Linked DNA regions of Homo sapiens: regions 1 and 3 are each linked to region 2. Evidence: fine-mapped expression QTL. A gene starts in region 2. Each other region holds a variant in brackets. All regions are shown on one strand. Distances are between the middles of the regions.

The links.
Region 1: its variant is fine-mapped to the expression of LNCOG in skeletal muscle (GTEx, PIP 0.91).
Region 3: its variant is fine-mapped to the expression of LNCOG in spleen (GTEx, PIP 0.98).

Annotation. Positions count from the first base shown.
Region 1 is chr12:76,287,751-76,298,104 of GRCh38, reverse strand. LNCOG (lncRNA osteogenesis associated) reads right to left here. Exons shown (of 4, transcript NR_146531.1): 2 at 5,835-5,989; 3 at 4,100-4,292. Among named protein-coding and RNA genes, the nearest start is that of LNCOG, 33 kb to the right of the region's middle. The variant AG/G (reference allele first, on the strand shown) is at 4,862.
Region 2 is chr12:76,254,691-76,265,044 of GRCh38, reverse strand. It overlaps LNCOG (lncRNA osteogenesis associated), which reads right to left and starts at 5,162. Exons shown (of 4, transcript NR_146531.1): 1 at 5,064-5,162.
Region 3 is chr12:76,298,815-76,309,168 of GRCh38, reverse strand. LNCOG (lncRNA osteogenesis associated) reads right to left here. Exons shown (of 4, transcript NR_146531.1): 4 at 3,200-4,695. Among named protein-coding and RNA genes, the nearest start is that of LNCOG, 44 kb to the right of the region's middle. The variant G/C (reference allele first, on the strand shown) is at 6,381.

The DNA.
Region 1 (10,354 bases), 33 kb before region 2:
AACACAGAGGTGTATATTACACAAGGGCATTTGGGTAGAGGACTGTGCAGAAAAGTTTTTGGAATTCCAACAGAAGGGAGTTTCAAATGGGGATCCAAAGTGGCTATTCAAGGCCGGGCATGGTGGCTCATCCCTGTAATCCCAGCACTTTGGGAGACCAAGGCAGACAGATCGCTTGAGCTCAAGAGTTCAAGACCAGCCTGGGAAACATGGTGAAACTCTTTCTCTACAAAAAATACAAAAATTAGCCAGGCATGGTGGTGCATGCCTGTAGTCCCTAGCTATTCAGGAGGCTGAGGTGGGAGGACGACTTGAGCCCATTGTCACGCACGTCCGCGTGAAGAGACGACCAAACAGGCTTTGTGTGAGCAACAAGGCTGTTTATTTCACCTGGTTGCAGGTGGGCTGAGTCCAAAAAGAGAGTCAGGGAAGGGAGATAGGGGTGGGGCTGTTTTACAGGATTTGGGTGGGTAGTGGACAATTACAGTCAAAGGGGTTTGCTCTCTTATGGGCAGGGGCGGGGGTCACAAGGTGCTCAGTGGGGGAGCTTCTGAGCCAGGAAAGGAATTTCACAAGGTTAATCACTCAGTTAAGGTGGGGCAGGAACAAATCACAATGGTGGAATGTCATCAGTTAAGGCAGGAACCAGCCATTTTCACTTCTTTTGTGATTCTTCACTTGCTTCAGGCCATCTGGATGTATATGTGCAGGCTTGGGCTCAGAGGCCTGACATTCCCGTCTTCTTATATTAATAAGAAAAATAAAACAAAATAGTGTTGAAATGTTGGGGCGGTGAAAATTTTTTGGGGGTGGTATGGAGAGATAATGGGTGATGTTTCTTAGGGCTGCTTCGAGTGGGATTAGGTGCGGCGTGGGAACCTACAGTAGGAGAGATTAAGCTGAAGGAAGATTTTGTGGTAAGGGGCGATATTGTGGGGTTGTTAAAAAGAGCATTTGTCATATACAAAGATTCGTGATGGCCTGGATGCAGTTTTGTATGAATTGAGAAACTGAACAGAAGACGCAAGGTCTGAATAAGAGAAGGGGAAAAACAGGTATTAAAGGACTAAGAATTGGGAGGACCCAGGACATCCAATTAGAGAGTGTCCAAGGGGGTTCAGCGTAATTACTTGTTTGGTTGGTGAGTTTTTGGGCTCTATTCTTGACAGAGTCCTTTTTGTTAAGTTGGAGGCTGAGCTTGGTGAGGTGTGTTTTTAAAAGACCATTAGCCTGTTCTACCTTTCGTGAAGATTGAGGACGGTAAGTGGTATGAAGGTTTCACTGAATACCAAGAGCCTGAGAAACTGCTTGGGTGATATGACTAGTAAAGGCCGGTCCGTTATCGGACTGTATTGAGGTGGGAAGGCCAAACCAAGAAATTATGACCGCGGTGGCCTTTTCAGACCCTGTAGGAAAGGCCTCTACCCATCCAGTGAAAGTGTCTACCCAGACCAAGAGGTTATTTTAGTTTCCTGACTTGAGGCATGTGAGAAAATTCAATTTGCCAGTCCTGGGCCGGGGCAAATCCCTGAGCTTGATGTGTAGGGAAGGGAGGGGGCCTGAACAATCCCTGAGGAGTAGTAGAATAGCAGATGGAACACTGAGAAGTGATTTCCTTAAGGACAGATTTCCAAGATGGAAAGGAAATGAGAGGTTCTAAGAGGCGGGCTAGCAACTTGTAACCTACATGGAAGAGATTATGAAATGATGATAGAATAGAATGGGCCTGTGAGGCTGGAAGGAGATATTTTTCTTAGTCCAAGAACCATTTGCCTTGTGTGGGAAGAGATTGATAGGTGGAAGTTTCAGTGGGGGAGTAGGTGGGAGTGACTGATGAGAGGGAGAAAAACTGGCCGTGAGGGACAGAAGTTGGAATGCTAGCTGCTTCTTTAGCTACCTTATCAGCATAAGTGTTACCTTGAGCAATGGGATCTGATGCCTTTTGATGGCCTTTGCAGTGAATGAATCCAGCTTCCTTTGGAAGTAAAGCAGCCTTGAGAAGAGTTTTTATTAAGGAGGCATTAATGATGGAGGACCCTTGAGTAGTGAGGAAACCTCTTTCAGCCCATATAACAGCATGGTGGTGTAGGATATGGAAGACATATTTAGAGTAAGTATAAATATTGACGTGTAGTCCCTTTGCAAGAGTGAGGGCCTGAGTTAAGGCAATGAGTTCAGCTTACTGAGAAGTAGTGGAGGGAGCAGAGCAGTAGCCTCAATGATAGATGTGGAAGACACTATAGCATAGCCTGCGTTTGTTGGTGAGTGGCTATTAGGCCTGCTGGAACTGCCATCAATAAACCAAGTGTGATCAGGATGAGGAACAGAAAAGGAGGAAATATGGGAAATGGAGTGAATGTCAGGTGGATCAGAGATACAGTCATGGGGGTCAGGTGTGGTATCAGGAATAATGTGGGAGGCTGGATTGAAGTCCGGCCAGGAACAATGGTAATTGTGGGAGACTCAACAAAGAGTGAGTACAGCTGAAGGAGCTGGGGAGCAGAAAGTATATGCATCAGGTGGGAGGAAGAAAATAGATTTTGGAAGTTGTGAGAACTGTAGAGAGTGAGTTGAGCATAGTTTGTGATTTTTAGGGCCTCTAAAAGTATTAGGGTGGTGGCAGCCACTGCACAGAGACATGATGGCCAGCCTAAACGGTAAAGTCAAGTTGTTTGGACAAAAAGGCTACAGGGCACGGTCCTGGTCCTTGTGTAACAATTCCGACTGCACAGCCCTGCACTTTGGCTGTGTGTAATGAAAAGGTTTGGGATGCAGGGAGAGCTAGTGTGGGAGCAGTCTCTAAAGCTGTCTTCAAGGAATGGAAAGAGGAGTGGGGAAAGGATTTAGGATCTATGGGGTCAACTAGGTTTCCTTTTGTGAGTTTATATAATGGTTTCATTAGGAGGCAAAACCAGGTATCCAAAGGCGAAAGTATCCAACCATGCTTAGGAAGGAAAGGAGTTGTTATTTTGTAGAAGGGATTGGGGTTTGAGAGATCAGTCAGACATGATTGGCAGGGAGAGCACGTGTGTTTTTATGAAGAATTATGCTGAGGTAGGTAACAGATGGAGAAGTGATTTGAGCTTTGGAGGATACCTGATATCCTTTGGAGAATAAATGTTGAAGGAGCAGGAGGGTGTCTTGTTGAGAAGATTCAAAGGAGGCGCTACAAAGTAGAAGGTCATCAATATATTGAATAAGGTGAGAAGTGGAGGGGTGGAAAGAAAGTAAATCATGAGAAAGAGCTTGGCTGAAGTAACGAGGGCTGTCCCTGAAGGCTTGCAGCAGCATAGCCCAGGTAAGCTGCTGGGACTGATGGATGTCAGAGTCAGTCCAGGTAAAAGCAAAGAGAGGCTAGGACAAGGGGTGTAGGGGAATAGTGAAAAAAAGCATCTTTAACATCAAGAATGGAATAGCGAGTTGTGGAGGAAGGTATTGAAGACAAAAGAGTGTACAGGTTGGGCACCACAGGGTGGATAGGCAAAACAATTTGGTTGATAAGGCACAGATCCTGAACTAACCTGTAAGACTTGTCTGGTTTTTGAACAGGTAAAATGGGAGAATTGTAAGGAGAGTTTATAGGCTTTAAAAGTCCATGTGGTAACAGGCGAGTGATAACAGGCTTTAATCCTTTTAAAGCGTGCTGTGGGATGGGATATTGGCGTTGAGCGGGGTAAGGGTGATAAGGTTTTAATGTGATGGTAAGGGGTGCATCATCCATCGCCAAGGAGGGAGTAGAGGTGTCCTATACTTGTGGATTAAGGTGGGGAGATGCAAGGACAGGATGTGAAGGAGGCTTTGAATTGGGGGGAAAGGCGGCAATGAGGTGTGGCTGTAGCCCAGGAATAGTCAGGAAAGCAGACAATTTAGTTAAAATGTCTCAACCTAATAAGGGAGCTGGGCAGGTGGGGATAACTAAAAAGGAGAGCATAAAAGAATGTTGTCCAAGTTGGCACCAGAGTTGGGGAGTTTTAAGAGAACTTAGAAGCCTGGCCATCAATACCCACAACAGTTATGGAGGCAGGGGAAACACGCCCTTGAAAAGAGGGTAATGTGGAGTTGGTAGCCTCTGTATTGATTATGAAGGGGACGGACTTACCCTTCACTGTAAGAGTTATCCAAAGTGTCTGTGATGGTCCTATAGGCTTCCCAGGCAATCAAGCAGTGTCAGTCTTCAGCTGCTGAGCCGAGAAGATCTGGGAAGGAGTCAGTCAGAGAGCCTTGGGCCAGAGTTCCAGGGGCTCTGGGAGTGGCTGCCGGGTGAGTTGGACAGTCCATTTTCCAGTGGGGTCCTGCACAGATGGGACATGGCTTAGGAGGAATCCGAGGCTGCGGGCATTCCTTGGCCCAGTGGCCAGATTTCTGGCACTTGAAGCAAGCTCCTTGGGGAGGAGGTCCTGGAGGAACACCTGGCCACTGCAGTTCAGACGTTTTGAAGTTCTTGTGTGATGGAGATGTGGCTAGAGTTTCTCTCACAGTAGAGGCAAGTAATTGCAACTCAGAAATAGTTGCTACTTGGCTGCCTCTACTCTATTATTGTACACCTTGAAGGCGAGGTTAATTAGGTCCTGTTGTGGGTTTTGAGGGCTAGAATCTAATTTTTGGAGCTTTTTCTACTGTCAGGAGGGGATTGGGTAATAAAATGCATATTGAGAATAAGACAGCCTTCTGGCCCCTCTGGGTCTAGGGCAGTAAAGTGTCTAAGGGTTCTTGCCAAACGGGCCATGCACTGGGTTTTCATACTTGGTGAAAAAGAGCCTAAACGCTAACTGATTTGGGAGAGGTTGGATAAAGAAAAAGGAGCATTAACTTTGGCTATGCCTTCAGCTCCAGCCACCTCTCTAAGAGGAAATTGTTGGGC[AG/G]GGGGGGAGGGCTAGTCGCCGAATGAAGCTGTAAGCCAGACCAGGCGTGATGAAGGAAGGTAATAGAAGGGTTATAGGGTGGGGGAGTGGAGGCTGAAGAAGAGTTGGGACCTGGATTGGCCTGGCAAGGAGCAGCCTGGGGAGGAGGGGAAAGGTCAGATGGGTCTGTAGAAAACGAGGATTCACATGACTCAGAGCTTGGGGTGGAGACTGAAGGAACTGACAGGAGAGAAAGAAGAAAGATTTGGGACGAGTTGCATTGGGAGCAGAGACTAGGGAGGGACCAATGTGTAAAAGAATGCCTGGATGTCAGGCACCTCAGACCATTTGCCCATTTTTTGGCAAAAATTATCTAGGTCTCGTAGGATGGAGAAATCAAAAGGGTCATTTTCTGGCCATTTAGAACCATTGTCAAGTTTGTATTGGGGCCAAGCGGTGTTGCAGAAGAAAATAAGACACTTAGATTTTAGGTCAGGCAAGAGTTGAAGAGGTTTTAAGTTCTTGAGAACACAGGATAAGGGAGAAGAAAGAGGAATGGAGGGTGGAAGCGTGCCCACAGTGAAGAAGGCAAGTTTAAAAAGAAGGGTAGAGACACAGAGAAGGGGGGTGGGGAGCAGCCCTGGGCTGCAATGTGGGTGAGCAGCCAAAGCAGGCGTCCCCGCGATTGACTTGCCACCAAGGGAATGTGGGTGAATGACCAAGGCAGGCGTCCCTGTGGTGATCAGACACCAATGGAATGTGGGTGAATAATCAGGCAGGCGTCCCCACAGTGATTAAACACCAAGGGAAGACTGTCTTCCCAAGTCCATGACTGGCGCCAGAGTTTTGGGTCCACGGATAAAATGTGTCTCCTTTTCTCTACTAGAGAAGAAAAAGAACTGGAATTGGAAGGACAGGGAGATTGAAGGGTAGCAAGAGAGGAAGATTGAAGGGTAGTGAGAGAGGCTGGAGAAAAGTGAAAAGACCGCTTACCCGATTTGAAATTGGTGAGATGTTCCTTGAGCTGGTTGGTCTGAGGACCCGAGGTCGTAGGTGGGTCTCCTCACAGAGTGAGGGCAAGGACAGCGGACTGGTCCCCCAAAGGAGTCTCTCTGACCTGGGTCTTCAGCACCAAATGTCACGCATGTCTGTGTGAAAAGACCACCAAACAGGCTTTGTGTGAGCAACAAGGCTGTTTATTTCACCTGGGTGCAGGTGGGCTGAGTCCAAAAAGAGAGTGAGGGGAGATAGGGGTGGGGCTGTTTTACAGGATTTGGGTGGGTAGTGGAAAATTACAGTCAAAGGGGGTTGTTCTCTTATTGGCAGGGGCGGGGGTCACAAGGTGCTCAGTGGGGGAGCTTCTGAGCCAGGAGAAGGAATTTCACAAGGTTAATCACTCAGTTAAGGTGGGGCAGGAACAAATCACAATGGTGGAATGTCATCAGTTAAGGCAGGAACCAGCCATTTTCACTTCTTTTGTGATTCTTCACTTGCTTCAGGCCCTCTGGATGTATATGTGCAGGCTTGGGCTCAGAGGCCTGACACCCATGAGGTTGAGGCCGCAGTAAGCCATGATTGCACCACTGCATTCCAGCTTGGGTGACAGAGCTAGACCCTGTCTCAGAAAACAAACAAAAAACAAACCAAAAGAAAAAACAAAAAACCAAAGTGGCTCTCCAGCCAGCACGTAAAAATGTGTAAAGACAAAGGAAGATTATATTGACACATGGAGAGAAAAGAAACCAACCCATTCCCTTTATTAGAAGGCTGGGATCTCTAAGAAGCAGATTACAAAATAAGTCCAGCAACCAAGCACACAGGGGAGGTCCCTCCATAAATGGTGGGTGAGGAGACATGGAGGGTAAAGATCAGCCATGTGAATGGGATAAGTATTCAGATAACATTTTGGGGTTCAAGCAATTTTGGCTTCTACAAAAACATTGACTTGATCTTTGTTGCATGCTACTTGCAAATGTTGTTTTCTTTTCCAGAAAACTCTTTGGTAATGGTGTCTATTCTGCAATTCACATACTTTCTGAAATTCTAGGAAAAGGGGAATAAGTCAACAGCAGCCATATTCCAGGAATTTAATGGCAGGGGAATTGTTGAAACCAGTGCCCAGAAATAAGAGTAACATCTGTTTGTTACTCCTTTCAGGTCTGATCTTAAGACGTTCCTGTTGCATCTATCTTCCACAGTTACATCCTCAGACTTTTGACATCCCCTACTTGGCTATTCTGGGTGTCATTTTGCTAACCTCTTCAGTCATGCCAGTCTCAAGTTTATCTCTAACCTGTCCACTTGATTCTTCTGGTCCCTCCACTGATGTTCATCTGTCTCAATCCTGCATTAAGAGCTCACATCATCACCATTAGTAACACAGCAGAGTGGATAATTCCCACCTCCATATTTTTATTCATTTTTTTGAGACAGTCTTGCTCTGTTGCTCTACAGGCTGGAGTGCAGTGGTGCGATCTTGGCTCACTGCAACCTCCACTTCCTGGGTTCAAGCAATTCTCATGCCTCAGCCTCCTGAGTAGCTGGGACTACAGGTGTGCACCACCACGCCTGGCTAATTTTTTTGTATTTTTAGTAGAGATGGAGTTTCACTATGTTGGTCAGGCTGGTCTTGAACTCCTGTCCACAAGTGATCCACCCTCTTTGGCCTCCCAAAGTGCTGGGATTACAAGTCTAAACCACTGTGCCCGGCCATATTTTTATTCATTTATTCACTCATTCATTCATTCAATAAGCATTGAGTACCTCCTATAGCTCAGGAAATATGCTAGATCCTGGGGCTTGAGAGATAAATGAGACACAGATTCTGTCCTTTTTAGAGCTCATAGTCTAGTTCATGGGTGGGAATAGATGTGCTAAGAAGTAATGGGCACATAGTGTATTATATGTCCCCAATCTGCACATAGTATAATATATTCCCCAATAGAGCCATGCAAATGGCATAATATAAACAGAATAGGGGGTAAAGAACTCTGCTGGAGGAAGGCACAGAGAGGACTTCCCAGAGGAGGTAACATTTGATGTGTCGTAAAGAAGGTTTCCATTCAAAGGAAGGGATAAGGGCATTTCACACAGAAGGAATGGGAAGACAACGGTTTCAAAGGAGTATGGCATGTTCAGGAGATGGCAATCAGTTTGACAAGGCAAAGGAGGCTGTTTTGTGCTTAATCATGCATGGTTTTAAAGCTAGACTGTATGAAAGTACCCAGTGTGCATTTCGACGAGCTATTAAACTTATGTGCCTCAGTTTTCCTATATGTAAAATGTGGATAAATACAGCTTCTATCCCATAGGATCGTTTTGAAATTTTAACGTGTTAACACACCTAAACACTCAAAAACAAAGCTTTATATGTTGTAACTGCACAGAAAAATGTTTGGTGTCATTTACTTATTGCCATCATCGTTGTCATCATCATCATCCCTGCTTTGCCTCTTTTTATCCTTACATTTAACTAGTCACTAAGTTGTCTCTGTTCTACTCAATATTTCTCAAATCCATATCCTTATTACTATCCCCATTCCTATTGCCTTAATTTAAGCTCTTATCCTCTAATACTTAGTCTTGCTGCCTCCGATGATTTCTCTAGCAGTTGAATTCGTACACATTCCATCAAGCCTTGGAGGAAGGAAACCAATGGAGATGAGATTAGAAAAGTAATCAGGGACTAGATAATCAAGAGTCTGCTATGGCACCATAAGAGGTTTTGACTTTATTCTGTAGCTTATGAAGAGCCATTAAATATTTTAAGCAGAGAAGTGGCAATAGGATTTGCACTGTATAAAGACAATGTGGAAATTTAGAGATGTACTCTACAGGTGTCTTTGGAAGATTGGCTGGTGAGGAGAGGAGAGGGAGGGGAAGGAAGGAATCAAGAAGACGCTTAGGGTTTGGGGCTTGAGAAACTTGGTGGATCAGGTACCATCTTCTGAGATGACTGGAGTATGGAGTTTGGGAGAGGGTGTGGCTGGAAATGAAACTAGAGAGGAAAGAATGACTTAAATCACAAAACACTTTGGGCTTTATCCCCTGAGTCCAGAAGTAAGGGCGAAGAAATGGACACTTTTTTTTCTCGGGAAAAAAAGATAGGAAAAAGTAGAGCATTCATTCTCTTCTGTTGGCTTCTCTTCTTTGCATCCTATGATAAAGTCCTTCTCTTAGCCAATCCTTAAATGCCCTCATTTGCCCTTTCAGGTTATTTAAAATGTAATTATCATTAAAGAACCAGAGAAAGTCTATCTCTTCTCAACATTGATGGAGTCTGACTACCCCAGCCCACACTAAATCTCTTTTCTGATTGCTTATTGTATTAAATATTCTGATGCTCAGTTTAGTGCTTAATAGGTCTCTAATTACTTCCTGTCATAGCTTTATCTTCCTAACTACATTGAATTGCTACCTTTAAAGGCAAAATAAATTACTGAATCCTCCAAAAGGTATACAGTAGAAACTCTATACTACCTTATGGGTTCAGAGAGGGTTAGACGGAACCTTAAGACTAACTTGTCTAGTGGTGTTCAACCTAGAATTTCACATTCCAATATGGTTATAATAGTGTCCGCATGCTGTTTTTCTTAGTTTAAGCCTCTAATAGCTGTTGCATATTTTCTTATATAAAGTCTGTGCAAGCTTCTTTGGGCAATAGTTATATTAATCCAGTTTAGTAACACTGGGGATCACATAAGAAATGAATCAGTTACTTAACAACTTCTGGTTGATTAAAAAAAATTCTTTCAAAAGATAGCAAGTATGAGAAAGGATAAAAGCATTCCTTGGTGGTAACATCACTAATCATCAAGGATATACAAATCAAAACCACAGTGCAATATCATTTCACACCTGTTTAAAATGGCTATTATCAAAAAGATGAGGCAATTTTTGGCAAGAGTGTGGAGAAAAGGAGACCTTTGTACATGGTTGGTGGGAATGTAAATTAGTATAATCAATATGGAAAACAGAACAGAGGCTCCTCAAAGCTAAAAATAGAAATACCATATATCCAGCAATCTATCTATGGGTGCATAACCAAAGGAAATGAAATTACCACCCCCATGTTTATGCATTATAATTATGCAGCATAATTTATTGCAGCATAATTCACAATATCCAAGATCTAGAAACAATAACCAAGATATGGAAACAACCTAAGTGTCCATTGATGAATGAATAGATAAAGAATTTATGGTACATGTCTACAATGGAATATGATTCAGCCTTAAAAAAGAGAGATCTTGCCATTTGTGACATGGTTGAACCTAGAGGACGTTATGCTAAGTGAAATAAGCCAGACATGGAAAGAAGAGTACTATATGATCTCATTTATGTGCAATCTAAAAAGAAAAACAAAGCTCAAATGCATAGAAACAGAATAGAACAGGGGTGGGGAGATGAAGAGACAGAAGTCAAAGGGTAAAAAGTTAGTTATGTAGGATGAAGAAATCTGGAGATCTAGTGTATAACATAACTATCCTATAGTTAATAGAATTGTATTTTAT
Region 2 (10,354 bases):
GCCTGGCCAGCACTGTGTTTTTAAAACAAGATAAAATTGACAGTACCTGAGGAAAGCCTACATCCAAGAAATTTGAAAGGTATATGCAAATTACCTGTGCAAACAAGAAAGTATGAGTAATTAGAGAACTACTTTATGATGATTCAATGGCCACTTTGTACCAGCAATATGGGCTTATTACCAGCAAGCTGATGTAGAAGAAAAATGTAAAGTTCTATTACTTCTGGACCATGGCTTTACAAACCCTCCTCTTGAACTTCTTGCATAATGTTTTCAGTTTTTCTTTTCCTTGCAACATGACATCAGGAGTGTAGCCTTGGAGCCAAAGAGCTTTAGAGACTGAAAAGCAAGTCTGAGCACTTCTTTCCAAACTGTATGTTTGCTTCAGTGAACAGAAGCCAGGAATCTAAGACTTCCTTAAAGAGGTTATACTCAAGGATACCATTTACAGAGCTGCCAATGCTCAGAATGATATTATTAAGTCAACATCAACAAATGCTAGGAACAGAATTTTGCTACTCCAATGTTGGAAAATAAAACCACCAACACAAACTTAGAAATATGTGGGGCCATTGATGAAAAAACAATTATGTCTATCTTTATTATTACACTAAGTTTTTATTGGCTGAAGTTGTTAGAAGAAGCTGATAGTAAAGAAATACTGATCATTGGTAGTGATGCAGTTGTATATTTTCAGTGATGGGGAGATTGCTGAAATGTTGCAAATATAGTAAGTGTGAGGATTACAGAAGATAATGATGATGATATTATAAATATAGGTGAAAAAAACACCACAGATGATCTGGTGATGTTACTTAATGTGAGGTAGTTTATAGCTAGCCTGGAGTAATATGCTTTCAATGATGATGGAAAGATTGTTGACATTTACTCAAACAGAAATTGTTTAGACAAAAATCCATGTTAATAAAACGAATGACAGGAGAAAGTTTGGTTTTTATTTAATTTTATAAAAAAAATAATTTTTAATCCGTATCATTTCTTATGATCCTGTGAATCCCAGTCCAAAGGCAGGAGAAGACCGACGTTCCCGCTCCAGCATGCAGGCAGGAAGGGGACAAATCCCTTCCTCTGCTTTTGTTCTATCAAGCTTTCAACGGGTTGAATGAGGCCTCCCCATATTGACAAGGGCAATCTACTTTCCTGAGTCCACCAATTCAAATGCTAATCTCATCTGAAAACACTCTCACAGACACACCCAGAAGTAATGTTTAATCTGGGCACCCCGTAGCCTAGTCAGTTTGACCCATAAAATTAACCATTACAGGAGTTGAGGGCTTCAACATATGAATTTTGAGGGGATACAATTCAGTCCATATCATCCGCAGACTCCACTGCTGGTATTATGTAAAATATAATATATGAATGTATAACCTTTCTAAAAATCTCTAAAATTCTAAATTATGAATTATCCAGCCAAAACCATTTCTGACAAGAGATTGTTGACCTATACAAAATATCCTATAACCTCTTTCCTTAAAAGAGTTGAGAGTATAAGACTATTGATCTAGAAAATAATAAAATTTTAGAAAAATGGAAGAAAATAGTTCTATTGCTTGTTTCTCCCTTTAAACTCCTTTTATTCTAAGGAGAGTACGGGCTTTTAAGAACTTGATGAAAGGGGTCTAGAATATCTCAACCATGATTTCATTTCAGCCCTCAGCCTACTCTGTACTTTTGTGTGAAGCCATCCAGGTCCTCAGAGTCTCATTTACTAGTCAGGAACAAGGCAGGACTGTGACTCTTACCCCAGGAACGTGCTCTTCCAAATACAGCACTCCTATCTACTCTAGATCTGCCACTTGCTGGTAGAGTGGTGGGCAATCCTCATCTCCAAAATGATAATAATGGCAGTGCTAACCGCAAGGGTTATTGTGGGGATTTGATGTGATGATCCCTGTGAAGTGCTTAGAACAGTGCCTGCTGTGTGGTGGGCTCTCGATAAATGTCATTTATTACTATGAAAGGTTAGGAAGAGTAAAAATTACTTTGGTCTTTTCCATTAAGGTGAAATTGCCTCTGCAGATAACATGATCTTATATATGGAAAACCCTAAAGACTCCACCAAAAATCTATAAGAACTAATACATAAATTTAGTAAAGTTGCAGGACACAAAATCAACATAAAGAAATTAGCTGCATTTCTATACACTAACAGCCTATCTGAAAATGAAATCAAGAAAACAATCCCGTTTACAATAGCTTTAATTAAAAAAAAAAAAAAAAAAAAAAAAACTTAGTACTGGGTGGAGTGGGTCACACCTGTAATCTCAGCACTTTGGGAGGCTGAGGTAGGAGGATTGCTTGAGCCCAGGAGACCAGCCTGGGCAACATAGTGAGACCTTGTCTCTACAAAAATTTTAAAATTTGGCCAGGTGTGATGGTGTACACTTGTAGATACAGCTTCTTGGGGAGCTGAGGTGGGAGGATTGCTTGAGCCCAAGAAATTGAGGCTGCAGTGAGCTGTGATTGCACCACTTCATTCCAGCCTGGGCAACAGAGCAAGATCCTGTCTCAAAAAAATAAAAATAAAAATAAAAATATAAATAAACACTTAGGAATAAATTTAACTGACATGAAAGATCTGTACAGTTAAAATTATAAAACACTGATGAAAGAAATCGAAGACACCAATAATGGAAAGATACCCTATGTTTACAGATTGGAAGAATTGTTAAAATGTTTATACTATCTACATAAAGCAATCTACAGATTCAATGCAATCTCTATCAAAACTCCAGTGTTTTTTACAGAAATAGAAAAAATAATTCTAAAATTCATATGGGATCCTTAATGACCCTGAGTAGCCAAAGCAATATTGAGAGAAAAAAAAAAAAAAGCTGGAAGCATCATACTATTTGATATCAAAATACACTACAAAGCTATAGTAATCCAAATAGCATGGTATTGGCACAAATACAGACATGTAGACCAGTGAAACAGAGATCCCAGAAGTAAATCCATGTATTTACAGTCAACTGATCTTTAACAATGGTGCCAAGAATACACAATAGGGAAAGAAGAGTCTCTTCAATAAATAGTGCTGGAAAAACTGCATATCCACATGCAGAAGAATGAAATTAGATCCTTATCTCATACCATATACAAATATCAACTCCAAATGGATTAAAGACTTAAAGTAGATCTGGAAAAAGGAAACTCTCTAAACAAAAGTCCTCCTCCCTACCCCTCTTCCAGCTGCTTTGCATCTGTTTGTGGAGCTCCACTTTTGTCCCCTTAAAGGTAAATGAGCACTTTCCTCCTTCCATTTCCACTGCACAGGTAACTCTCAAAGGACTTCACACTCATTAACTCCAGCATGGAGAGCAAGGGACTAAAGAGCAACACTTTTCAGAGACAGTTTTTTAGAACATTTATTTTCTGATGATGATGGTCTTCCTCTGTTTTCCCAGAGTTGGATGCCTACCTAGAGAATCTCCAAAAAATGCAACAGTGTGCTTTGATGTTTGCCTACCATAGTTACCATTGTTAAATACTATTTATGGGTCCGGGCACTTCTAATCAAAAAGTGCCTGTAATCCCAGCACTTTTTGATTAGAATGTTAGAACTTTCAGCCCCATCCACCACTCCTATCACTATGCAAGGGAAAGGGGTTGGAAATTGAAGCTGGATGAGCACATTGGCTCACGCCTGTAATCCCAGCACTTTGGGAGGCTGAGGTGGGTGGCTCATTTGAGGTCAGGAGTTCAAGACCAGCCTGGCCAACATGGTGAAACCCCATCTCTACTAAAAATACAAAAATTAGCCAGACGTGGTGGCAGGCACCTGTAGTCCCAACTACTCATGAGGCTGAGGCAGGAGGATCACTTGAACCCAGGAGGCAGAGTTGCAGTGAGCCAAGATTGCACCACTGCACTCCAGCCTGGGCAGCAGAGCGAGACTCCGTCTCAAAAAAAAAAAAAAATAGTGAATGACTCAGTCTATTTGGGCTGTTATAACAAAATAGTATATACTGGGTAATTTATAAACAATGGAAAGTTGTTGCTCACAGTTCTGGAGGCTGGGAAGTTCAAGACCATCCTGGCCAACATGGTGAAACCCCATCTCTACTAAAAATACAAAAATTAGCCAGGCATGGTGGTATAAACCTGTAGTCCCAGCTACTTGGGAGGCTGAGGCAGGAGAATTGCTTGAACCCGGGAGGTGAAGATTGCAGTGAGCCAAGATCATGCCACTGCACTCTAGCCTGGGTAACAGAGTGAGACTCAGTCTAAAAAAAAGGAAAAAAAAAAATATGGGAGGCCACTGTTTTGGACTGATTCCTGCACTAGGCTCCATCAGCCGGGACCAAATCAAAATGAAATAAATTCTAGCTTCCACATAATTAAACTGAATTTAGAAATGGGCCAGTTAAAAAAAAAAATCTAGGAGATTCTCAGCAACCAATCCAAAGCCACCAAGTCAACCTGAGCTGACATAACATGAAAGGCCCTCTGCTTTAACCCATACAAGGAAAGTTAACTGAAGCCATCTGATGTTAACCAACCCACTTTTGGCATGACACCATTTCCTTCTTGCTTAAGCTACCTTACAGAAATCAACTGTTCTGCCAACCCTGGAGGAATGTCTTTCCATTTTATGAATGGGATGCTGACCAACTCATAATTGCTAATAAAAGCTAATGAGATCTTTAAATTCAATTTGTTGAAATATTGTTCTCTGTCATCCTCTACCCCATCACCTGTGCTCAGCACCACACCTCTGCTTCACTGTGCCCCTTTATTATTTTTCTAAAGCTGAACAAATCACATGGGCCCCACAGTTAGTGTTTACCTTATGCAACGACCTGTGTGGCCCCTATCAGAGCAAACAGAGAAACAGAAAGATACTCTTCCCCCCATATTAATTCCTCCTCTGCTCAAAAATGGCTTAAATTTCTTGAATTTCTTCAAGCCAGCCAAATGACAATCACAGTCATTATCTAAATGCAAACCCTTCTGAGATAGTGCTTTAATTCACAGTAAGATTCAAATAAATCATAACATCATATCTCGAGGGCAGATTTTCTTAAATGGGTACATACCGTTTTCATCAGTTGTTTTCTTAGAGCTCTGGATATTTCTCTTGTAAGAGGAACAATCTGTGCAATTACAGTTCTGTAAAATACAGCTACAGAATGCTCTGACTTAAGTGTCAGGAGAACAGCCAAGGAGCAAGTTGAGAACTGCCTGGAAGGACCTCTGGCATTACTTTAAAGCCCTGCCAGATCACTTCCGGTATCACATCATCAATTTCCTACCCCAGCTTCACTGACTCCCTATATTAGCATTTCCTGTTAATGTTTTTCATACCCACATGTGAGGGTTACATGGAATTTTAAGTTAGATTCAATAGAAGGAGCAGCAGTATAGAAATACAGTTATTAAAATTCCACTGGTATCTTTCTACTTGTTTTAATGACTACTAAAAACTTAAAAATTATATTGTGTGGCTCACACTATATTTCTATTAGGCAGTGCTGCCTTAGAAAATTCTAGTCATTTTCTAACAGAAAACCTATATGTACAATTAAAAACACTTAAACTGTGGGGGGTTACTAACAACATATACCCTTTCCCCCATTCGGTTTCTCTCTGTAAGCAGTTTAAATTACCTCTTCATTTGCTGAAGATAAAAACTTCAATATTTGAGGATTAAGAAGAGCAAAAGAGGGTCAGAGAAAGGAGATGTTCCCTGCCAGCAGTGTCCTTGTCACATGCTGGGAAGTGAGTTGGCCTAATGGCATTTAACAGTTTGACATGTGAAAAAGAAGAAAACAAGCTGCCTTTTAATCCTGGCATTCTAACCTCTCTCTTCTAATCTCTCCCTAGCCTCTGTCTTCTAGGAATGTGGGATACATTGGGTTGGGAAGTAGAGTGACCTTTGACAGAGATTGGGATGGGGTCCAGGGCAGCTGGCTCCTCTGAATAAATAGGTAAAGACAGGTACAATTAAATAGGGAGTAAGCATTTGCTCAGATGCAGTAGTCCACTAGGAGCCAGTAATCTGTCTAAGTCAATAGAATCCAGAGAAAGTCAAGGTAGTGTGAAGACAATGACGGAAAACTTCATCCACAGAGAAGAAAGAGTAGAATGAACAGATGACCACAGTCTTCCGATGGATGAAGAACCAGCTGTCCACTAAGACTTGTCCCTCATGGCTAAATTGCAGTACCAAAGTTATCTTTCCTGAAGCAATTAGTCTTACATTTTCTCTCTTGCTGTTCACATATTGTTGTTCTGCCATTGAGAAGCAAATGATGGCCAGGTGCGGTGGCTCACACCTGTAATCCCAGAACTTTGGGAGGCTGAGGCGGGTGGATCAGGAGTTCAAGACCGGCCTGGCCAGCATAGTGAAACCCCATCTCTACTAAAAATACAAAAATTAGCTGGGTATAGTGGTGGGAACCTGTAATCCCAGCTACTTGGGAGTCTGAGGCAGGAGAATCACTTGAACCCAGGGGGGCGGAGGTTGCAGTGAGCTGAAATCGTGCCGCTGCACTCCAGCCTGGGTGACAAGAGGGAAACTCTATCTCAAAAAAGAAAAAAAAAAAGAAGCAGCAGCAAATGATGTGTAGAGACTATGGAGACTCTTCTGTCCTCCCACAGATAATGTGCAGATAACATCATTCCAACATCTAAAAATGTGTTATTCATTTATTTCTGCAGAGGCAATATTCTTAGTATTGTACCAGTGACAGCCCTTGGGAGTTACTAACTGTTTATAGAAGAAATTTTTCCTGATGAAATAAAGATTCTGAGTTAATGTCTCTTTTAATATCTTGGAACATTCTGGGGGAGGCTGACATTTTAAAAATATCTTGCTTTGAATATAGGGTCTCTACAGTTGATATATCTAAGCACAATATCAATATGGAATCAGAAATTAGAATAAAAGTGAGCTGGGTATGGTGGCTCATACCTGTAATCTCAGCACTTTGGGAGGCCAAGGTGGGAGGATCACTTGAGCCCAGGAGTTTGAGATCAGCCTGGCCAACATAGTGAGACCTCATTAGAAAGAAAAAAAAAAAGGGCCAGATGCGGTGTCTCATGCCTGTAATCCTAGCACTTTGGGAGGCCAAGGCGGGCGGATCATGAGGTCAGGAGATCGAGACAGTCTTGGCTAACACGGTGAAACCCCGTCTCTACTAAAAATACAAAAAAGTTAGCTGGCGTGGTGGTGGGCGCCTGTAGTCCCAGCTACTCGGGAGGCCGGGGCGGGAGAATGGCATGAACCTGGGAGGCGGAGCTTGCAGTGAGCCGAGATTGCGCCACTGTACTCCAGCCTGGATGACAGAACAAGACTCCATCAAAAAAAAAAAAAAAAAAAAAAAGAAAATTCTTTCTTTTTCTTTCTTTTTCTGAGACAGTGTCACTGCATCCTCAACCTGGGATCTCAGCCTGGGTCCACAGGCATCTACCACCATGCACAGCTTATTTTTTAATTTTTTGTCGCGATAGCATATCTTACTATGCTACTCAGGCTAGTCTTGAAATCCTGGGCTCAAGTAGTCCTTCCAACTTGACCTCCCAAAGTGCTGGGATTATAGATGTGAGCCACCACACAGATGCTAACTTGCTGAAGATATTATTGAAAAGTTATCCTATTAAGATTTTATTAATATTATAAATTATTAAATATTTTATTGTATTATTATCTTGGTATCTGATTCATTCTCTCTTCCCATGGTTTCTTTGTAACTTAGGCTAAGATAGTTATGTGTGTGTGTGTGTGTGTGTGTGTGTTTATGACAACAAATATGTCATTTCAACACAACAAATTCTCCAATTCTCCAGCACCAACTTGGTGCCCAACAATTCAATCCAGTTCTAACACTAACTGCCCAGAGTTAGCACAGACCTCATAGGTTGAGGGCTCAGGACCACAAGCCTACTCCCATTTTAGATGTCAGCCACAAATGAAGTCCCAGGGCTACCCACACTTCTGGCCAACTGACTACTGGTTTGGGGATTCCTATGACACTCCCCCCCACCAACTGGGGTTTGATAATTCGCTAGAGTGACTCAGAGAACTCAGGAAAATGCTTTACTTATAAAGGGTACAATTCAGGAAAAGCCAAATGAGAGAGATGATCATTAGGGCAAGGTATAGAGGCTTGGGATGCTGAGAGTCCATGTCTTTTCTGGGCAGGCTCATACCTTCCATGTCCACCACACATCATGTAGGCATAGTTGATTAAATCATTGACTGTTGATAATTGCACTCAATTTCCAACCCCTTTCCTGTGTGTAGAGGTGTGACAGGGGATGGGGCTAAAAGTTCTAACCTTCTAATCAGAAAGTTTTTCTGGCAACCAGCCCCAATACTGAAGCTAACTAGGTTGCCTCCACAGTCATCTAAGTAGCATACAAGCAACAGTAAATGCCAAGGGTTTTAGGAAGGAATAAAGACCACATATTTATTTTTTGTTATACTCCAACAATGATCATGGTAAATAATATTAATCATTAACATTTGTTGGATGTCAGGCAGTGTTCTAAGAACCACATAGGCATTTGGTCATTCCTATGTGGTGGAGGCTGATGAGGTGAGGGCGGAGAGAATGTAGAACTCTCAGATTCTGATATAGTAGGCAGAGGATGGGGCTCAGGAGTCAGCATTTTTAATAAGCTTTCCAGGCGACTCTAATTCAAGTGGCCCACAGATTACTCCTTGAAAGGAGGTAATAACCCTTGAGAGGAGTTGTGACACGGTTCTACCTTGTTTAGTCCAATGCTGCAATAACACCAAAAGAGATGTCTTTATTCAGATTCAGAAATGTCTCATTTATATTCTCTGAAGGTGATGTATCTAATGCTTGTGAAAGATTTTATTCTAATGCTAATTTGGTATCACAGAACTCAAGAGACACTCAGTCCCATTTAGTTTCTGGAATGGAGAGTAAAGTACATGAAAATCTCTAGTCCCCCTGGAGACTTGACTTACACCCCAGCAATAGACTGATTCAAAGCAGAGTGTCTTGATTTTGTCATCATTGATATTTGGGGCTGGATAGTTCTTGGTTGTGGGGAGCTGTCCTCACATTGTAGGATGTTTAGCAGCATTCCTGACCTCTATTTACTAAATATCAGCAGCATCTGCTCCTCCACCTCCCAGTGCTGATGACCAAAAATGTCTCCAGACATTGCGAAATGTTCTCTGGGGGACAAAATTGGCTCTAGATGAGAACACTGTTCTAAAGGATATAGGTGAAGAGTGCTGTGATGACCCTCATATTCTTGGCTCTCTCTTTTTGTTAAATGGGTTTCTGTTGTGGGGACATCCACGAAGCAGCAACATTCAGTGAGGAGCCAAAGACAGCACTGAGCTCAAGAGAAATAAGAACAAATCCCTGGATCCAGCTCGGGCCAACCAGATGCCTTCTTGACCTTAAGTGAGGGTCTCAGTAGGGTGAGGTGGGGACGAGAATCTTGCTGGCGGCACTTCCCCCCAGAATTTAAAGTAACCCTGAAATGTAGATGAAATCATTTTCACACATCTTCACCACAACTCAAAGTACCCAAATGAGTCTGCTGAAAAACACCAACCTATCAACAGAAACATTTCCAGGAGCAGTTCTTGGGCATTGTGAATGTGCAATTGCCTCAATGCATGCCTGTAACTACTATTACCATCAGAAGCAGGACCTGGGATGTCAGGGCCTTTTCAGGGGGATTAGCACTGACATGAACATCAGCTTAGGAGATATTGCCAACATTATTAATAGACACTTTGCCCCAGCTTGTTGAGAATGGTCCAAGCAGTTCTATTTTCACAGAATAAATCCGGGTGGCCCGTCCACTAGGAGAAATGTAAAAATGCAATCATCGATTTCTCTGTAGATTCAGGAACTTTATGTGTAGTGAGGGGGAAGAAAACAGAAATGAAATCCTCTTCCCGCCTTTGCTGCCCAGAAAATGAAATATGTCCTCCTAGAATCTGTTTGGATGATTCCATTGGAACAGGATGATGCACCTGTAGAAACTCCTTTTAATTTTTCAACATGGAAAGAAACAGGGACCCCTGAAATTGTAATCATAAGGAACTGTACAGGGACTCTTTCCCCTGATGGATGCTGGACACATGTACTTGGAGTATGCGTTCAGTGATGTGTCCAAGAGTGAGGGCTACCAGAAGGACTCCTTTCCCTAAAGCTGCTCCCACAGTCTCTCAACTCTGTCTGAAATTAGAGAAGGATTCAGATGAAGGAAGTTACAGCTTACATCCTGTCAACAGCAGTTCAAAATATTCAAATGTCCCTGTGAAGAGTAACAGTGAAGATGACATCAACCATTCGCACATTCGTGTAAATTAGTTTATTATCTGGCACAAGAA
Region 3 (10,354 bases), 44 kb before region 2:
TATTCTGAGACACAGCAGTGTTGAAGTTAGGTCAATTAATGACCCTACAAAGGCCTCCAAGTTTTCAACTGAAAGGAATAGTTACTTGTCTTTCACTTTAAACAAAAGGTGGAAATGATTAAGCTTAGTGAGGAAGGCATGTCTAAAGCTGAGATAGGCCAAAAGCTAGGCCTCTTGCACGGGTCGGTGAAGTTGTGAATGCAAAGAAAAAGTTCTGGAAGGAAATTAAAAGTGCTACTCCAGTGAACACACAAATGATAAGAAAGCAAAACAGCCTTCTTGCTGATATGGAGAAAGTTTTAGTGGTAGGATAAAATTTCAAACCTGCCACAACACTCCCTTAAGCCAAAGCCTAATTCAGAGCAAGGCCCTAACTCTCTTCCATTCCATGAAGGCTGGGAGAGGTGAGGAAGCTGCAGAAGAAAGGTTTGAAGCCAGCAAAGGTTGGTTCATGAGGTTTAAGGAAAGAAGCCATCTCTATAACATCAAAGTGCAAGGTGAAGCACTTTCTCCAAAAGCAGAAGCTGCAGCAAGTTATCCAAAAGATCTAGCTAAGATCATTGATGAAGGTGGCTGCTTTAAACAACAGGTTTTCAATGCTGATGAAACAGCCTTCTATTGGAAGAACATGCCACCTAGAACTTCCATAGCTGGAGAGAAGTTAATGCCTGGTTTCCAGGTTTTAAAGGATGGGCTCTCTTGTTAGGGGATAATGCTGCTGGGGATTTGAAGTTGAAGCCAATGCTCATTGAACATTCAAAAAATCCTAGGGTCCTTCAGAATGATGCTAAATCTACTCTACCTGTGTGCTCTAAATGAAACAACAGAGCCTGCGTGACAGCACATCTGTTTATAGCATCTTTTACTGAATATTTTAAGCCCACTCTTTTTTTAATTTAAAAAATTTTTATTACTTTTTAGTTTTTTGTAGAGATGGGGTCTCCCTATGTTGTCCAGGCTGATCTTGAACTCCCGAGCTCAAGTGATCCTCTCGCCTCAGCCTCCTGAAATAATTGGGTTACAAGTATGAGCCACCATGCCTGGTCAAGCCCACCCTTTAAGACCTATTGCTCAGAAAAAAAGGTTTCTTTCAAAATATTTCTGCTCATTAACAATGCCTCTGATCACCCAAGAGTTCTGATGGAGATGTACTAAGAGATTAATGTTGTTTCATGCTTGCTAACATAATATCCATTCTGTAGCACATGGATCAAGGAGTAGTTTCAACTTTAAAGACTTATTCTTAAGAAAAACGTTTCTTAAGGCTATAACTGCCACACGTAAGGATTCCTCTGATGAATCTGGGCAATGTATATTGAAAACATTCTGGAAAGAATTTACCATTCTGGTTGCCACTAAGAATATTTGTGATTCATGGGAAGAGGTCAAAATACCAACATGAGCAGGAGTTTGGAATAAGTTGGTTCCAACCCTCATGGATGACTTGCAGAGGTTCAAGACTTCACTGGAGAAAGTCACAGCAGATGAGGTGGAAATAGCAATAAAATTAGAATCAAAAGTAGAGTCTGAAGATGTGACTGAATGCTGCCATCTCAAGGTAAAACCTGAATGGACAAGGAGTTGCTTCTTATGGATGAGCAAAGAAAGTGCTTTCTGGAGAGGGTATCTAGTCCTGGTGACGATGCCATGTACAATGTTGAAATGACAACAGAAGATTTAGAAGATAACATCAACTTAGTTGATAAAGCAGAAAGCAGTAGCAGGTTTGAGAGGATTGTCTCCAATTTTGAAAGAACTTCTATGGTGGATAAAATGCTATCAAACAGCATTCCATTCTATGGAGAGATCTTTCATAAAAGGGAGAGTCAATTGATGCAGAGAACTTCATTGCTGCCTTATTTTAAGAATTGCCACACCTACCCCATCCTTTGGCAACCACCACCCTGATTAGTCAGCAACCATCAACATCAAGGCAAGACTCTACCCACAAAAAGATTACGGAAGTCATTGAAGGCTCAGATGATCATGAAAATTTTTCAGCAATAAACCATTTTTTAAATTAAGGTATATACATTGCTTTCTTAAGACATAATGCTATTGCACACTTAATAGACTACAGTGTAGAATAACACAATTTTATGTGCACAAGGAAACAAAAATATTCTTGTGACTCACGTTATTGTGATATCTGCTTTATTGCAGTAGTCTGGACCCAAACCCATAATATCTCTGAGGCATACCTACATATACAAAGCACACACTAACTGTCATCTTGGTGTCCCTATGTCTTCCAGCCTTGGGTAGTATATGTATACATTTAATGTTAAAATAAAAATGGCAGCCAGGTGTGGTGGCTCATGCTTGTAATCTCAGCACTTTGGAAGACTGAGGCAGGAGGATCATTTGAGCCCAAGAATTTGAGACCAGCCTTGGCAACATAGTTAGACTCCATCTCTACCAAAAAAAAATTTGTTTTTGATTAGCTGGGCATGGGCTGGGTGTGGTGGTTCACCCTTGTAATCCCAGCACTTTGGGAGGCTAAGGCAGGTGGATCACTTGAGGTCAGGAGTTTGAGACCAGCCTGGCCAACATGGCAAAACACCTTCTCTACTAAAAATACAAAAATTTAGCCAGGCGTGGTGGCAGGTGCATGTAATCCCAGCTACTTGGGGGGCTGAGGCAGGAGAATCGCTTGAACCCAAGAGGCAGAGGTTGAAGTGAGCCAAGATCATGCCACTGTACTGCAGCCTGGGCAAAAGAGCAAGACTCCGTCTCAAAAACAAAAAAAAAACAAAAAACAAAAAAACCCAGCCGGGAATAGTAGTACCTGCCTGTCGTCCCAGCTACTTGGGAGGCTGAAGCAGGAAGATCACTTGAGCACAGGAAGTCGAGGCTGCAGTGAACCATGATTATGCCACTGCACTCCAGCCTGAGTGACAAAGAGACCTTGTCTCAATGTCTCAAAAAAAAAAAAAAAAAAAGACTCAAGTCCTTATCCTACATACTGTGGAAAGTTCAGTGCCTTTCCCATGATTTCTGCAAACCCTAAGGTGCCTCTGTTGCTGGGGTCACTCCTGCTTAGATTTCCTGGTCCCACTAAACTCTCAATCCACCTCACATTCCACTTCTTATGGTTCTTCTCTTCTCTCTGTTACTGTCCAACAGGTTCTTCCTGCCCACTGCAAAACAAAATCAATTCATAGAGACCATGGCATTGCAGTAAAGAAAGAGTTTAATTGACACGACGCCAGCCACGCCATGTGGGAGACAGAGTTATTACTTAAATCAATCTCACCAAAGAATCAGAGGTTAGGAGTTTCTCAAAGATAGTTTGGTGTGCAGGGGATAGGGTATGGGTGCTGCTGATTGGTTTGGGATGCAATCATAAGGGTGTGGAAAACAGTCCTCATGCACTGAGTCCATTTTTGGATGAAGGCTATAGGACTGGTTGAGTCACGGGTCTGCGTGGGGCCATCTAGTTGTCAGAAATGCAAAAGGCTGTCAAAAGGCCAATCTTAGGTTCTACAATACTGAAGTTATTTACAGGAGTAACTGGGGAGGTTGCACATCTTGTGACTTCCAGAATAATGGCTGAATTCAGGCATTCAGGCCCTTCTCATCCTCCTAACTTGGTGGCCTTTCATTAATTTTACAAGGGTAGTTTAGTTTTGGGGAAAGGCTATTATCGTTTACACTATAAACTCAATTTCTGCCAAAGTTAGCTTGGCTTATGCCCAGGAATGAGCCAAGACAGCCAACCTGTGAGGCTAAAAGCAAGATGGAGTCTGCCATGTCCAATTTCTCTTATTGCCATAATTTTGCAAAGGTGGTTTCATCTCCATCCATTGTCAACTTACAAGGGAAAAACAGCATCATTTTTCTCTGATTTCCTCAACAATGCAAGAAGTTCATGTGTATCAGACATTTACCGAAGTTTGAAATAACCCATAGTTTTATAAGACCAAGGAGCACTGCAGATAATTTAAAATAACAAGCATGACTCTTCTTTAAAAACCCCTGGAGAAAATAGATGAGGTAAATATGCCAAAAAGGTAATAACATCTAAAACTGGATAGTTACACAGTGTTATCTTGCTATTTTATTTGATTTTTAATATTTTATTTATATAGTTTTTATAATGAGTTTAAACAACGAAATTAGTCATGGGGCCACAGAAGATACTTTGCTGTCTGTGTTAGGATAAAGGCAAAACTGCCATAACAAAGAATTTCTGAAATGCAGGGGCTAGTGATACAGAAGTTTATTTCACCCTCACACAACAGTCTTCGGGGTGAGTGGCCCAGGTGGGTGAGATGACTCCACATGGCCACATAGGGATCCAAGTTGTTGGGTCCAAGTTGTTCCATCTTGTTTCTCCACCTTCCCCTAGGGCCTTGTCCTTTGCTGCACAAAGTCGGGCTGCAGACACAGCCATGTTCCCATTCACAGATAAGACAAAGAGTGGAAATGGAGGGCGGTCATATTTTTTTTTAAACCAATGAACCCAAGTGCATACATCACTTCCACTTACATTCCACTGTCACGTGGCCACACCTGGCCACAAGGGTGACTAAGAGGTGCAGTCTTTAGGTAGGTAGCCATAGGCCCAGCTAAATGCTGTTCTTCTGGAAGAAAGGGAGAATGGCCTTTGGTGAATTCATGGCAGGCTCCACTTCACTGTCGGTCTCCCTCTATGGGACCCTGGCATTCCTCCCTGCAGTGGCGCTTTTTTGTCTAAAAGGAAGTGAAAGGCTTTTCTCATGAAATACGATTTAAACAGAGACTTGAAGGCAGCTGCGTGGGTATCTGAGTAAGAACATTCCAGCACAGGGAACGACAAGCGTCAGAGGCATTTAAACCAAACAGACTCCATCTTGAAAAGTGGCTGGGTAAAATAAGGCTGAGACCTACTGGGCTGCATTCTCAGGAGGTCAGGCTTTCTTAGTTATGGGATGAGATAGGAGGTTGGCCACAAGGTGCAAGTCATAAAGACCTTGCTGATAAAACAGGATGTGGTAAAGAAGCTGGCTAAAACCCACCATAACCAAGATGGTGATGAAAGTGACTTCTGGTCATCCTCACTGCTTACTATACTCTAATTATAAGGCATTAGCATGCTGAAAGATATTCTCACCAGCACCACGACAGTTTACAAATGCCATGGCAACGTCAAGAAGTTAACCCTATGGTCTAAAAGGGAGAGGAACCCTCAGTTCCAGGAATTGCCCACCCCTTTCCCAGAAAATTCATGATTAATCCACCCCTTGTGTAGCATATAATCAAGAAATAACTATAAGTATGCTCAGTTGAGCAGTCCAGGCCACTGCTCTGCCTATGGAATAGCCATTCTTTTATTTCTTTACTTTCTTAATAAACTTGCTTTCACTTTATGGACTTGCCCTGAATTCTTTCTTGCATGAGATCCAACAGCCCTCTCTTGGGGTCTAGATCAGGACCTCTTTCTGGTAATACAAGTACCAAGCCCATCCAGACAATGCAAGGTGCCAGAGGTCTCAGAGAGTGAAAGGAAGTGATGCCCATTGTCAGCCATAGCCAAGCAGTTGGATTGATTCTGAGATGATGTGTCACTGGAGGGCTCCAAGCAGAAAAGTAATATGATCTGGTTTATACTTTATAAGGATTATTTCAGCTGCTGTGTGAAAAATAGCCTGTGGGGGTAAGAGTGAAGACTGACAGGCTCATTCGGAGGCTACTGAAATAATCTAGGACAGAGACACTGGTGGCTTGGGTGTGGAGGTGTTGTGGAGGTGGGGACAAGTGGTCAGGCTCCAGACACATTTTTTTCGATGGAGCCAAAAGGACTTAAAGGAATGCATGTAGGATGTGAGAGAAGTAGAGGAATCCAAGATGACTTCAGAGATTTGTCCTGAGCCACTAAAAGGCTGGCATTGCCACTGACAGAGCTGCATAGGGCTGGAGAATGAATGGGTTGAGGTGGTGGGGCAAGGAATATTGAGCTCATTTGTAGATATATTGGCAATGCCATGTTGCAGAGTGACTGACTATACAACTCATGGGAGGGCTAAGTCATTAGTATATAAATAGCATTTAAAGCCATGGGCTTGTATGAGACCCCTAGGAAGTGAGTATAGCCAGAAAGGGAGAGTGGCCAAGGCTGGAGCTCTGGGAGCTCCAATATTCAGATGGCAGGAAGATGCAGACCAAAAGAGTTTGAGAGGAAGCAGCCAATGAAGTAAGAAGGGAACTCAAAGTGGCATGACATCTGTATCAGTCCACTTTCACACTGTGATAAAGATACTACCTAAGACTGGATCATTTATAAACAAAAGAGGTTCAATTGACTCACAGTTCCACATAGCTGGGGAGGCCTCAGGAAACTTACAATCATGGTGGAAGGCAAACGAAAAGAGAGGCAAGACTTACATGGTGGCAGGAGA[G/C]AGCGTCCATAGGGGAAACTCCAGACACTTAAAAAAAAACAAACAAAAACAAAACAAAACAAAAAACAAAAAAAAAAAACACATCTCGTGAGAACTCCTTCACTATCATGAGGATAGCATGGGGGAAACAGCCCCTATGATCCAATCACCTCCCACCAGGTCTCTCCCTTGACATGTGGCGATTACAATTCGAGATGAGATTTGGAAGTGAGTGTAGCCAAAGCATGTCAACGACCCAAAGGGAAATTGCAGAAAGGGCCCCAAGGAGGTGAGATGAGTGCTGGGAATTGACCATAGGGCTCAGCAATTGGAAGCACATGGTAATAGCATTGTCAGTGAAGTTGTGGGCATCATGGCCTGGCTGGAGTAGATCCATGAGACAATGACCCATGAGAGGAGCTGGAGACAGAAACTAAAGATATGGCTTGTGAATTTTGGCTTAAAGGAGATCAGGGAAATTGGGTGGTAGCTTGAAGAAGATGTGGATTTAAGGGAATATTTCTCTTTTTTTTCTTTCTTTTTAAAAAAAGATTAAGAGATATGAAATACTGATGGGAATTACCCAGTAGGAAGGAAGAGGGCACAACTGCAGGAGCTGAGTGCTTGAGTAGGTGAGAGGGGCTGGGACCCACTTCACAGGACTTTAAGGACAGCCCAAGTGGTTGATGGTAGCAGGAAGGTTGAAGGCCAGGTGTGAGGCACAGGCACAGCCTCCTCAGGAGAATCCGTGGTGGAAGCAGGTGAAGGTTATCTTCTGATTTTCTCAGTAAATTAAGAATTTGAGGTTAGGCACAGTGGCTCACACCTGTAATCCCAGCACTTTGGGGAGGCCAAGGCAAGAGAATCGCTTGAGGCCAGAAGTTCAAGACCAAACTAAGCAACATAGCAAGCCCCTGTCTGCAAAAAATGTAAAAAAACAAAATTAACCAAGTGTGGTGGTGCGTGTCTATAGTCTCAGCTACTCAGAAGGCTGAGGTGGGAGGATCACTTGAGCCTGGAAGGTGGAGGCTGCAGTGAGCTTTACCGTTGCACTCCAGCCTGGGTGACAGAGCAAGACCCTATCTAAAAAAAAAAAAAAAAAAAAAATTCAGATAGGAGGTTGTGGGTGTCACAGGGGAAGGGCCATCTGAATTTGGAGGAGAGGGGAGAAGTATGAAATTGTCTCAAGATGGGGAGAATAAGTTGACTAGGGAAGTGGCTCTCAAACTTGACGGCACATCAGCATCACCTGGAGGACTTGACAAAGCAGACTGACAGGCCCCGCCTTCTGAGTTTTTAATTCAGGAGGTCTGAGGTGGAGCCTGAGAATTTGCTTTTCTAACAAGTTCCTGGTGTGATATGGTTCGGTTCTTCTCACTTTCCTCCTGCTGCCTTGTGAAGAAAGTGCCTGCTTCTCTTTTGCCTTCCACCATAATTGTAAGTTTCCTGAGGCCTTCCCAGCCATTTGAAACTGTGAGTCAACTAAACCTCCTTTCTTTATAAATGACCCAGTCTCAGGTAGTATTCATTATAGCAGTGTGGAAATAGACTAATACATGGCGATATTGATGCTGCTGGGCCAGGAACCTCACTTCGAGAACCGCTGGACTAGGAAATGTGGAGAGATTCCTGAGGAGCATGAGAAGTCCTTGTGAGGTTAGTGTCCATGAGAACTGTGAGCAAGGGTGGGTGTTTTTCTCCAGCCATGTGCAATGTCTCAGATGCTGGCATGGATTTAACCAGAGTGGTGTTTTGCCAGATAAACAGGAGAGAGGCACTGGGTATTTATTATAATGGATTATGCTGTCTAGCTTAGGTAAGAAGTAAGTTAGACTGGGGCTAGTGTGAGGCACAGGCCAGGTGCCTAGGGTGCACCATTTAAAGAGACAAAATTTGCAAGTGCCCACCTGCTCTCGCAGGACCCTGAGAGTGTGTGTTTCCTTAGATGTTGCACCCTAGGCTCTCCCTTGTCTCCCTCTAGTCCTGGCTATGGAAGTGAGGACATAGGGCATTTGGGGGAGTAAATAGGTAATAGGATCAGTAGTTTAGAGATCCTCATTGGGTTGAAGAATTATTAAAATTGGGGTACTAGAGGAAGTGACTCAAAAATATGAGACAGTTTAAGATTTAGATGTTTGAGTGTAAGACTATGGAGTAAACGTGAGCAACATAATGAAATCTGTATAAAAAATAAAAAATTAGCTGGACACAGTGGCTCATGCCTGTAGTCCTAGCTACTCGGGAGGCTAAGGCAGGAATATTGCTTTCGCCCAGGAGTTCAAGGCTGCAATGAGCTATGACTGTACCACAGCACTCCAGCCTGGATGACAGAACGAGACCCTGTTGTCTCTTAAAAAAATTTTAAAGACTATGGAGTAGATACAATTCTTGCCATTCATGAAGTCTAGACGTGTATATGACTAAGGGAGTAAGCGGGTGGCTAAGAAGTGGAGGACAAAATCATTAAAGGTGAAGAAGTTGAGGAAATTTTAAAGGCCAGGGAACTAGAAGAATCATCTTCATGGACACTAAACCCCCCAAGAATCATGACTAGAGCTGTAGAGATAGAACTAGTAAACCTGGACCTAAAATTTTCCAGGAACGAGGGAGAGTAACTTCAGGTCCTACATAATTGAAACTTCTGTGATTCTGAGATAATCCCTTAGGAATTCTGTCCCTGCTGGGGAAGTCCCGGTGTGACAGCTGGTGTGACACAATGCCTGCTTACTGGATCAGACATTTCCGATGCCTCACTCAGGAGGAGGCTGAGATCCTGATATATATTAAATATATATTTTTAATATATTTTAACATATATTTAATATATCCAGGATATATTCAGAGTTGAGCCCAGTTATTGCATGGAATCCTTAACCAGAGGTTTAACGTCCAGATGAAGTGCTGCTCCTATTCCATGTTGAATGTTTTCTGACACAAAAGCAAGAATGCTCTCCCTGCCCTCCAGCTGTCAATAATTATAAAAGATGACCATCAAGAACATAGGTATAAAACAGAAGGTCTGGTCACAGCCCAGTGTGGGTTCTCTTGAGTTTTCATTTGCACAGAACCACGGCCACCAAACCACAGCATAGGTTTCTGCTGTTTTTGAGCCAGCTCATGGGTTAATGTTTCCCAGTCCTGGTCATTTGGAGTCAGTAGTCCACAGTGCATACTATGCATTTTCTTCTTCATCCATTCCCATCTTAATCCCTACAGTGACACTTCTAGTCACCCCCAATCAAAAAATGTATAATTATTTCCAGTCTTCATTCTTCTTGATGACATTCTATCATAATTTGCCTGATGACTGTCCTTTTCTGGTTTGATCCCCCACACTTTCCCCTGCTGGTCCCTTTCCTTGCACCCTCTTCATTCTGTGATCTCGTATCCCTTTTGCCCTGTAAGGGCTCACTTGTTGGCTCAAATTCATCCCAGACTGAACTGAACTAGACAATTTACAAATTTTCTGAATTTATAAATTTTCTAACTTAGTAATAAGCTGATGTTGCTGGTGGTCCTGTTCTGGCCTTGTTACCCTGGGAGTGGGACTAGGTTTCTACCTGTCCATACTTTCCAGAGGTTGAGTCCTAAACACGCTGGAGGAGGCTTTGTTCCTCTTAAGATGACAGGCAGCTCAGATTAGTTCTCTCCTCTGTCACATTAGACCAAGCGCTTACCACCTGACCTCCTGATTAAGACAACAGACTTGTTGCTGAATTATTTGGCTCTGGGGTCTTCCCTTCTCTAACCCCTTAGACACTGTTGCCAGCAAAATTTTCCCAAAGCACACGTCTACAGGAATGACATTCAAAAAAACCAACAACTGGTATGGCAACAACTGGTATGTGAGCCACTGTGTCTGGCCCATAATTTTCTTAATAATACTTTATTTTCTCTAGTTTACTTTATTGTAATAATACAGTATATGATCTATATAACATATAAAATGTCTTAATTATTATTAACACAGGCCTGGCATGTTGGCTCACACCTGT